Linked DNA regions of Homo sapiens: region 2 is linked to region 1. The links come from fine-mapping of genetic effects on gene expression. A gene starts in region 1. The other region holds a variant in brackets. All regions are shown on one strand. Distances are from middle to middle. Region 1 holds the start of SCGB1D2 (secretoglobin family 1D member 2). Region 2 holds the start of SCGB2A2 (secretoglobin family 2A member 2).

What was found. PIP is the estimated chance that this variant, and not a neighbour inherited with it, causes the effect.
Region 2: its variant is the best candidate, but not a certain one, in a credible set for the expression of SCGB1D2 in skin (TwinsUK, PIP 0.54).

Annotation. Positions count from the first base shown.
Region 1 is chr11:62,239,032-62,244,411 of GRCh38, forward strand. It overlaps SCGB1D2 (secretoglobin family 1D member 2), which reads left to right and starts at 3,208. Exons shown (of 3, transcript NM_006551.4): 1 at 3,208-3,331; 2 at 4,258-4,445. The coding sequence starts at 3,277.
Region 2 is chr11:62,269,311-62,274,690 of GRCh38, forward strand. It overlaps SCGB2A2 (secretoglobin family 2A member 2), which reads left to right and starts at 848. Exons shown (of 3, transcript NM_002411.4): 1 at 848-961; 2 at 1,571-1,758; 3 at 3,647-3,850. The coding sequence starts at 907. The coding sequence ends at 3,685. The variant GA/G (reference allele first, on the strand shown) is at 2,945.

The DNA of each region.
Region 1 (5,380 bases):
AAACTAGGAACTACTGGCAAACCATGACATATATGACAAGTGGGACAAGATAATGGGAGTTAGAATTTATTGAGAACTACTATGTACCAGAACTTAGTTAACTTTAAACACACACACCCCCATGAACACACTCATTTGATCATCTATGAACCCAATGATGTAGGCACAATTACTAGCCTACTTTGACAAATAGGAAAACTGAGGTTACATAAGCTGAATAATTTTCTTAAGGTCCAAGAGCCCACAAATGAGGCTGTATCTGTGAGCCTTGTATCTGTGAGCCTCACCACTGGCCCTCCCACTCCTTGGTGGTGGCGGAAGAGCTGGCTCAGGGATTTCCTCATGATCCTGTGTGATGGAAGTGACAGCCACTGTTGCCCTCAGCTGGGGCTCAAACAAACCTGCCAAGTTGTCTCTGATGACACAGCCCATAAGGTCCCCTCTTTACATACATGTCTTTCTGTGTGGTTTTCAGCCCTCCTGCCCATCAGAAACACCAGAGCAGTTTAAACAGTGTAGGAATCAGGGAGTCAACCCAACGCTACTGAATCAAAATCCCCAGAGAGAGAAACCTGGGGAGTCAGTATATTTTAAAAGCTCCAAGTGATTCGATTGCGCAGCTGCGAATGGAAAGCTCGGGCCTAGGCTGTGAATCCTCTCAAAAGTAAGTTCATTTAAGAGAGAAATTTCTTGATGTGTTGCTGGATTCGGTTTGCCAGTATTTTATTGGGGATTTTTGCATCGATGTTCATCAGGGATATTGGTCTATAATTCTCTTTTTTTGTTGTGTCTCTGCCAGTCTTTGGTATCAGGATGGTGCTGGCCTCATAAATTGAGTTAGGGAGGATTCCCTCTTTTTCTATTGATTAGAATAGTTTCAGAAGGAATGGTACCAGCTCCTCCTTGGACCTCTGGTAGAATTCGGCTGTGAATCCATCTGGTCCTGGACTTTTTTTGGTTGGTAGGCTATTAATTATTGCCTCAATTTCAGAGCCTGTTATTGGTCTATTCAGAGATTCAACTTCTTCCTGGTTTAGTCTTGGGAGGGTGTATGTGTCGAGGAATTTATCCATTTCTTCTAGATTTTCTAGTTTATTTGCATAGAGGTGTTTATAGTATTCTCTGACGGTAGTTTGTATTTCTATGGGATCGGTGGTGATATCCCCTTTATCATTTTTTATTGTATCTATTTGATTCTTCTCTCTTTTTTTCTTTATTAGTCTTGCTAGTGGTCTATCAATTTTGTTGCTCTTTTCAAAAAACCAGCTCCTGGATTCGTTGATTTTTTGAAGGGTTTTTTGTGTCTCTATCTCCTTCAGTTCTGCTCTGATCTTAGTTATTCAATGCCTTCTGCTAGCTTTTGAATATGTTTGCTCTTGCTTCTCTAGTTCTTTTAATTGTGATGTTAGGGTGTCAATTTTAGATTTTTCCTGCTTTCTCTTGTGGGCATTAAACTTATCCACCATGATCAATTGGGCTTCATCCCTGGGATGCAAGGTTGGTTCAACATACGTAAATCAATAAATGTAATCCAGCATATAAACAGAACCAATGAAAAAATCACATGATTATGTAAACTAGTTCAACCATTGTGGAAGTCAGTGTGGCGATTCCTCAGGGACCTTGAACTAGAAATACCATTTGACCCAGCGATCCCATTACTGGGTATATACCCAAAGGATTATAAATCATGCTGCTATAAAGACGCATGCACACGTATGTTTATTGCAGCACTATTCACAATAGCAAAGTCTTGGAACCAACCCAAATGTCCAACAATGATAGACTGGATTAAAAAAATGTGGCACATATACACCACGGAATACTATGCAGCCATAAAAAATGATGAGTTCATGTCCTTTGTAGGGACATGGATGAAGCTGGAAACCATCATTCTCAGCAAACTATCGCAAGGACAAAAAAACAAACACCGCGTGTTCTCACTCATAGGTGGGAATTGAACAATGAGAACACATGGACACAGGAAGGGGAACAGCACACACCAGGGACTGTTGTGGGGTGGGGGGAGGGGGGAGGGATAGCATTAGGAGATATACCTAATGTTAAATGATGAGTTAATTGGTGCAGCACACCAACATGGCACATGTATACATATGTAGCTAACCTGCACGTTGTGCACACGTACCCTAAAACTTAAAGTATAATAACAAAAAAGAGAGAGAAATTTCTAGTGATTGATTTCCTGCTCACACCACACAAAGGCATCACAGCAGGAGGGCAGGAGGGTGTGTATTGCTTTGTCTGGGTGCTTCCTTCCCTTTCTATTAAAAATGGGATTGGCTCAGGCTGCACAGCTAGATTTGAAGTGGAAAACTTGAGCCTAGAGGTTGGGGGGAAGTGACCACTCACCCTGATCATCTGTCTCTTCTTTTCCATCTTCTTCCCCTCCTGGAGCCCCAGAGCAAAGAACTCTCAGTACCTGTCCGATGCATGATTGGCTCTGGACACTCCAAAAGCTACTTGGAAAAAGTTAGGCTATGTAATCATCAGGTCAACCCATCAACATGTGGGTGGCTACACATCACAGAAAGCTTGCTCCTCGTAGAGAGAAAATGTGAGTCTTGGCCATATTTATAGCTGCACTCATAAACAAGACTCAGGTTTGGGAGTGAGACAGGCTAGAGAACAGGTGCAGCAGTTGCTTTTCCCCAGGAAATCCTCCAAAGGTAAGATGCATTGAACTAGGTTTTAGGTACCTATGCAGTGAACATGGTGGTGATGGGAGGGGCTGAGGGGAATAGGTCTTGTTTAGACTTGCTCAATGTGCAACTGAAACAAGCCTACTGGTTGTCAGACATGCAGGGGGATCAAAGCAGGGTTTCCTTATGTCCCTGCTCCCCCATAACCAGAACACAGCCTTCCAGCTTCCTGTGCCTTCCAAAGTCAGAATTTACCTGTGCCCTTGAACTGATACAAAGAAAAAAAATAATCAGCAAAACTCAGAAGGAAACAGAATCCCAGGAATATTTCCAGAGGTGCCTGAACATTCACCTGGAACACAGAGCAGAGTTCCTGCAGGGCTACCCTCCTGTGCTCTGCCCCAGTCAGAGTGCAGGGAGGCGTGGGGAGGTGACACAGATGGATGGCAACAGCCCTGGGAAGGAGAGGTGGGCTGGGAGCCAGGCCTCATGACCAGTACCAGCTAGACTCCCTAGGTACAAATAGCCCTGGGCTCTGCAGCTCCACAGGCTCCTGGGGTGGAGTCCAAATCACTCATTGTTTGTGAAAGCTGAGCTCACAGCAAAACAAGCCACCATGAAGCTGTCGGTGTGTCTCCTGCTGGTCACGCTGGCCCTCTGCTGCTACCAGGGTGAGTACATCAGTCATGAGTCTAGCTCCAGCCCCTGGGAAGCACCCTCTTCCAAGCACGAGGTCACCTATTCAGGCTGGGGTTAGGATCTGCACAAAACCAAAATTCCAAACCTTTTTCTGTGCTTGTTGAACAAGCCCCTCATCAAGTTCAGAGCTATTTCTTCTACTCCCCAGCACCTACGAAGTTTTATTGAAAATCAGTGCAGGCAAATATTAGGAATTCTTCTGCCTGAGCTTCACTCCTGGGTGGGATCTGTGTCAGATGATGTAATGTGAGGTCTGGGGTGAATCTGGGATCCGCCACTTCCCAGCCCTTTGACCTTGGGCACAATGCTCACCCTCCCTGAGCCTCCTCCTATCACTGGTAGTTAGCGCTTCTGCCAGGAGAGGCTATGAGAATGGAGTAAGAAAGATTAATACTGTCAAAAGAGTCTAGCTGTGGGCTAAGCATGGCGGCTCATGCCTGTAATCCTAGCACTTTGGAAGGTCAAGGAGAGTGAATTGCTTGAGCTCAGGAGTTTGAGTCCGGCCTAGGCAACGTGGCGAAACTCCAGCTTTACCAAAAGAAATATGAAAAATCAGCTGGACGTGGTGACATGCACCAGTAGTCTCAGCTACTTAGGGGGCTGAGATGGGGATATCGCTTGAGCCCAGGAGGTAGAGGCTGCAGTGAGCCATGATTGAGCTACTGAATTCCAGCCTGGGTGACAAAGGGAAAAAAAAGAGTTTGGCTGTTGATATGAAGTGCTTTCCTTTATTGTGAGAGCTTGAGGAAGTCACACCTGAAGGGTCTGGCATTGTCATCAGCACAACAAATGTATGTGAACATATAACCCAGGGGATCCTGTCTGGTCTAACGTCAGGGAGCCAAAGAGAAAAATCGACTTTCCTAACATCAACTATATTTTTATTCTTTTGCTGCAGCCAATGCCGAGTTCTGCCCAGCTCTTGTTTCTGAGCTGTTAGACTTCTTCTTCATTAGTGAACCTCTGTTCAAGTTAAGTCTTGCCAAATTTGATGCCCCTCCGGAAGCTGTTGCAGCCAAGTTAGGAGTGAAGAGATGCACGGATCAGATGTCCCTTCAGAAACGAAGCCTCATTGCGGAAGTCCTGGTAACTTCTTTCTCCTTTATTTGTTAAGGCTTCTGGTCAGCTGCACAGTATGAAGTGAGGTCAGCTTGCTGCTCTGTTGGGGACACAGGTGGTGGGGCAGCTGCCTTGCTGGTCACCTCTTGAGAAGGTCACCTGGGGCCACAGGGTGGGTGCCACCATTTCACCTGCAGAATTCAACTCAGCTGCACACAGCCTCCTGCATGTTCCTCCTTCTCATGTCACCTGCCTGGATGCCATGTCCCCAGAGTGTGCTGAGGACATGGGGAGTGAGCCTGGGCCCAGGCAGAAATGGTAAAGGGCCAAGCATGGCCGCCTCGCTGCTGGGAGCTTTCCTGAGACCAAACTGCCCTCATGTAATGGACACAGTCACTGTGGAATGTCCTGGGGAGCATGGGAGCCTTGAACAGGGAGAGGAAGGCAGGGAGGGACATAGAGCAGGGGCTCCTGCAGATGTAGCACTGGCAGGCTGGACTTCTCTGCAGCTTCTGCAGAGCCAGGAAGGAGCCCCTCCCAGCTCCTGAGACCCCATACTCCCCTCCACACCCACGACACTCTCCTGACCATGGCCAGTCGTCCAAGACCCTAGCTAGTCTACCTCCTGCAGTGCCATGGAAGCGGGATGTTCTCACTCTGTCTTTCTCAAGAAATCAGAGGTTTTCCAGGGGCCTCTCTGCCTGGCTGCCTCTGAGTTGCTGTCCTGAGGTTTAGCTGCAAATGCTCATGGAAGCTGCAGGCTCGGGACTGAGAGGTGCTCGGGCCCTGAGGCAGAATTCCCACATGGGGAGGCTGGAGTCTCCTGGAAGCCAAGCTTCCCAGAAGCCCTCTCAGCCCTGACCAGCCTCTCAGTCCTGGGTCCCTCACTGCAGGAACCAGGAGACTCCAAGCCCTGGGACAGCCCAGGCAATAACCTCTTGCTGCTCTCTCCAACCCTCGTC
Region 2 (5,380 bases), 30 kb after region 1:
GGTCAAGCTGGTCTCAAACTCCTGACCTCAGGTGATTCACCCACCTCAGCCTCCCAAAGTGCTGGGATTACAGGCATGAGCCATTGCGACCGGCCATGAAACAATCTTTACATGAAGCATCCTTATACAAATTCTGCATGCTATCCCATTCCGCCTTTTATTTTCTTCAAGTGATGAAAAGGAAGGATGCTCAGAGAGACCAGCAAGGACATGGCAGGACTGCAAGTTGCATCCAGGGTCCAAACCCTCATCCCTGATTCCAAATTCCATCACCACCCACCACCCAGCACTGCCTGTCCAGCCCATCAGTTACGCTACTAATTCACAGCATCCTTTGAATCAGTGGAAAGAAAACCCTAAAAAGTTACCAAAGAACTAAACAAAGTTATCAATTAATTTATAATTAACCGAGATAATCCTTGTAAAAATAACTTTCAGCGGAGGGTGGATGGCCTTAAATTTCCCCACAAAAGGTAAAACTTTCCCAGACATCCCTTTCTGAAAATGAGATGTCAGTGGATGAGAAAAGCCTGCTCCCAAGAGTAGGTGTGAGGTATTGCACCTAGGCCCACTGCTGGGATAAGCTGGCACAGATACACGGGACATGATGCTTTCATTCTCACCTTAAAGAAAGAGACAGAGAAGAAAAGGAAGGGGAGCAAGTGGAGAAGGAATACAAGAAAGAGGAAGAGAAGCAGGAAGATTCTACATACAGGCTGGCTGTGTTTCCCCTGGGGCATGCTCCTGTTTACTGGTCCCATGCCAGGTTGACTCATTGCCTCGTTCATGGGTGGAATTAAGATGCCTACCTGGGGAATAAATAGAGCAAGGCTGGGTGCTCACCTCCACAGCGGCTTCCTTGATCCTTGCCACCCGCGACTGAACACCGACAGCAGCAGCCTCACCATGAAGTTGCTGATGGTCCTCATGCTGGCGGCCCTCTCCCAGCACTGCTACGCAGGTGAGTTCTGTGCAGGGAGGGCTGCCTCGGGGTTAGGGGTTGTCACTTGGGCCTCTATGGAAGAACTCCTGCTCCCCAATTCTCAGCAGAGATCAGCCCCAGTACAAAGGCTGTAGGTATAACAGATCTCACCATGTTGCCCAGGCTGGTCTTGAACTCCTGAGCTCAGGCAGTCTGTCCACCTCGGCCTCCCAAAGTGCTGGGATTATAGGTGTGAGCCACCACACTTGGCCTAAGATACTTGGAAATCTTCTGTGATGCTCTGAATGGTAATAGTGAAGCATCGTATGATTTTGAACCAAAGAAGACCAAATAATCTTCACGATATACTTCCAAGTCCGAGTGTTTCATTTCTCAAGTCTTCTCATTAAATGAAGTTTCATGAGGTTTAGCTTTTCTGGGCTGGGGAGTGGAGAGAAAGAAGTTGCAGGGCTTACAGGAAATCCCAGAGCCTGAGGTTTTCTCCCAGATTTGAGAACTCTAGATTCTGCATCATTATCTTTGAGTCTATATTCTCTTGGGCTGTAAGAAGATGAGGAATGTAATAGGTCTGCCCCAAGCCTTTCATGCCTTCTGTACCAAGCTTGTTTCCTTGTGCATCCTTCCCAGGCTCTGGCTGCCCCTTATTGGAGAATGTGATTTCCAAGACAATCAATCCACAAGTGTCTAAGACTGAATACAAAGAACTTCTTCAAGAGTTCATAGACGACAATGCCACTACAAATGCCATAGATGAATTGAAGGAATGTTTTCTTAACCAAACGGATGAAACTCTGAGCAATGTTGAGGTGTTTATGGTAATTTCATTTTCTTCCTATAAGCTTTTTAAATCCCCTGACCAGGGACAAGTGGGCTCTTCATTTCTCACTGACAATGCCAAAGCCACTAGTGAACAAGCCTTTTCTTACATTGGTTAATTTAGTTGAATGGTTAGTCTAATGACTTTGCCATCAAGAAAAACATCCAGTGTCCCTGTGTTGTCACTCTACCCAGAGAATCCTCAGTGGATGATAAATGAATAGGGCAAGAGAGGAAAAGGAAAGGTCGGTAGAAGTCTTACCTATCCCCAGAGCTCTCTAATTCATGCTCACAAACACAGACACAATCACACAAACACAGAAACACACATACACACATCCAGACACATGCAAACACACAGACACAGTCACAATCACACAAACACACACACATTCAGACATACACAAACATAGACAGACAGGCAAAGACACAGACACAGACACAGACACAATCACACCAGCACACAATCATCCAGACACAAACACAAACACACAGACAGAACCACACAACCACAGAAACACAGAGACACACACAAACACACTCAGACACACACATACAAACATATGTTCACTCTCTACAGAAAAAACAATTTTCCAGAAGACCCGCACCTATAGACCAATCTGCAGAGAAAACTTCTCTTCTTCAAAAAAAAGTAAAAGTGTTCTTTCTTAAAAAATGCCCTATTTTTCAACAGTTTGGAAAATACCATTTGAGCAAGATTCTATACATCTCAAATAAAAAGAATTTAAAATGCACTTCCAGGCAATCATAATTTGCTAGCATAAATGATGAGAAACCTTGGACTATCCAATAGGCAACTGTAGATCATGGGTATGAAACCACCATGGAGGAAGAATTGCCTCAAACAAAAACCAATAGTTTTGTATTTCTTTCTAACTATACATGTATATTGTTGAGGGTTTTCTTTAGCATTTATTCCCTATGTTAAATTCTTCTTTAATCCTTCCCTGGTAAAAAAAAAAAAAAAAAAAAAGTTAGAAATATACCAAACCCCTCCATTAGGATGAAAGTGAACATCACCTCAGGAAACCCTGACGCTTTCTACAACATGGATGAACCTTGAGGATATTATAGCGAGTGAAGAGTGAAGCAAAGAGTCACAAAAACACAAATGCTGCATGACCCATGCATATGGGAATCTGGGGAGCCAGACTCAGAGACAGT[GA/G]AAAAAAAAAAAACAGTGGTTGTCAGGGCTTGGGTGCAGAGAAGAAGGGGGAGTCATATTTAATGGGTCTGGAGTTTCAGTTGTGCAAAACAGTAATATTCTGGAGTTAGGTTGCACAACCACACGAATATACAGAACACTCCGAACTGTCCCCTTAAAATGGCAAATTTTATGAGATGTACATTTTACCACTATTAATAATTTGTTAAAAACTAATTATCAACTGCAGGGAAGGGTGATGGATTTGTTTCTTTAAAAGCTTCCTCAGACAGATCATAGTCTGCAGCTCCAATAATTAGTAGAGCACAATGGTGGTGGCAGAGGGCGTCGGACTGCTGGGATGCTGGGAATATTTCCACAATGGAGGGTTAGACGAGAGCTCAAAGTTTCACTTTTTTTTTTTTTTTTTTTTTTGCATTTGAGCTAAGATTTTAACAATCCTGTGAAAATAGGTAATATAGTCACGTATTTGTTGAATACATTATTTCAAAGAACCACAAACACACAGAAAAAATATTTAAAAAGTCCATGGTGGGGGAAATGATCCAGAAACAACAGCTCTTCTACTTCCAGCCCTAACCGTCTGGGATGCTAGATGGTTGTGGGCAAACCGTGGAAAAAGATAAGCTTCTGTTTTTCAAGATTTTATTTTGTTAGAGAGTGCAGAAAATCTAAGTGATGTCTCTGTTTTTGCTTTCTAGCAATTAATATATGACAGCAGTCTTTGTGATTTATTTTAACTTTCTGCAAGACCTTTGGCTCACAGAACTGCAGGGTATGGTGAGAAACCAACTACGGATTGCTGCAAACCACACCTTCTCTTTCTTATGTCTTTTTACTACAAACTACAAGACAATTGTTGAAACCTGCTATACATGTTTATTTTAATAAATTGATGGCAAAAACTGAAGTTTCTCTTTGTTCTACCGTAGAAAAGAGGCGTTAGAGGGCCTCACATATTTTACATACACACACACACACACTTACTTATTAAAGAACTCATGGTCATGGGTTGAGGACTCTGTGAAGCATTTGTTTCCTCAGTCTGACCTCTAAGCCTTGGTACTCTCTCTGAAGAGTGTTTCCCTGTCCCCATCCCACCACCTCCCCCGTCGACTCTCTCTGGAGTCCTCAGGCTCTGGGATGTGAGGCAGGGTTTCACTCAGAGGACCTGCTTTCACTCCAGTCCTCCCATCCACGCTGAGCCCTGCTGGCCATGTCAGGCTTCTCTGCGCTGTCTCTGGGCCTCCCCGAGATGTGCAGGGCCTGGGCCAGAGCCAGCCAGGGAGAGGAGTCCTGCAAAGCAGGGTGGCACCTGACTGGGTTTAAATTTTGTAATTTTTACTCATCATGGATGTTGGCTTCAGTTTAATTTATAAACTACTACAGGAAAATATTATTTTTAACCATATTATGTTATTATTTGAATCCTATGCAATATGACTACTGAGTTTAACAGTACCCCTATTAAGATTTTCAATGTCCTCTAGTCCTGTGCCTGTGGTGGGACTGGGGTCCATCCTCCGCTGTCCCGCAGTGAGCTGCAAAGGCAATGAGGGTTGAGGGGAGTGAGTGTGCTGTGCAGGGACCCAGCACAGCAGGGGATGTTTACATGGAACCTGGAGTCTCTTTCATGTCCTGTCCCCAGCATTCCTGTCACCAGGGGCAGTTATTGCCACCTGTTCTGCTTCTACCTCAGCCTGTCCCTCTTCTTTCTGAGGCTATCCCCTTGTAAGGTTTTTGTATCGGCTCGAACCCCAAGAACATACCAACAGACAACACGAGGCAGTGTGGAGCAACATGCTGTTTTAATGAGCGCCTGGAAGCAGGAGGGCTGAGGCCTAAAGTGGCATCAGCCTTAAGTGAGGATGGTGCAAAGGTTTTATAGTCTCCTGTAAACAGGAAGTGTCCTAGTCTGATGTAACTGCTATGTTATATCTGGATGGCCTCTTTCTCCGTCTTCAGGGGTATGTGTCTTCCGGCCGGCTCTCTTCCTGCTTCTGCTATCTTGCTGGTGCACCCCACTAGCACAAGTAGCCTTGTGCCTTGGGACTGAGCCTGAGAAGTGGGGAGCTCATCTCCTTAAGCTTTCAGGCCCTGGGGAGAATTTTACATTGCTGTCTATTTGGTTATGGAAAAAGGACGACTTTCTCAATAACCACTTCAGGTGTGACATGGGGTGGCATGGGCACCTTGGAAAAAGAAAAACTTAATTTTGGGGCTATTCTTGAGAGACAGGTTGGTATCCACCATGTCATTGTAGCAGGAGCATCATCTGGATTGTCTGGAAAGGTGTCTGTGCCTGCAAAACAGTTATGTTGAGAGGACAAGGAGGTGTCAACAGGGAGAGGCATGGCCTCATTTGCTGCTTCACGAATGAAAGACCATGTCTGGATTAAGAAGGGGAATAATTCCTGAGTGGCTCAGAGTCTGGT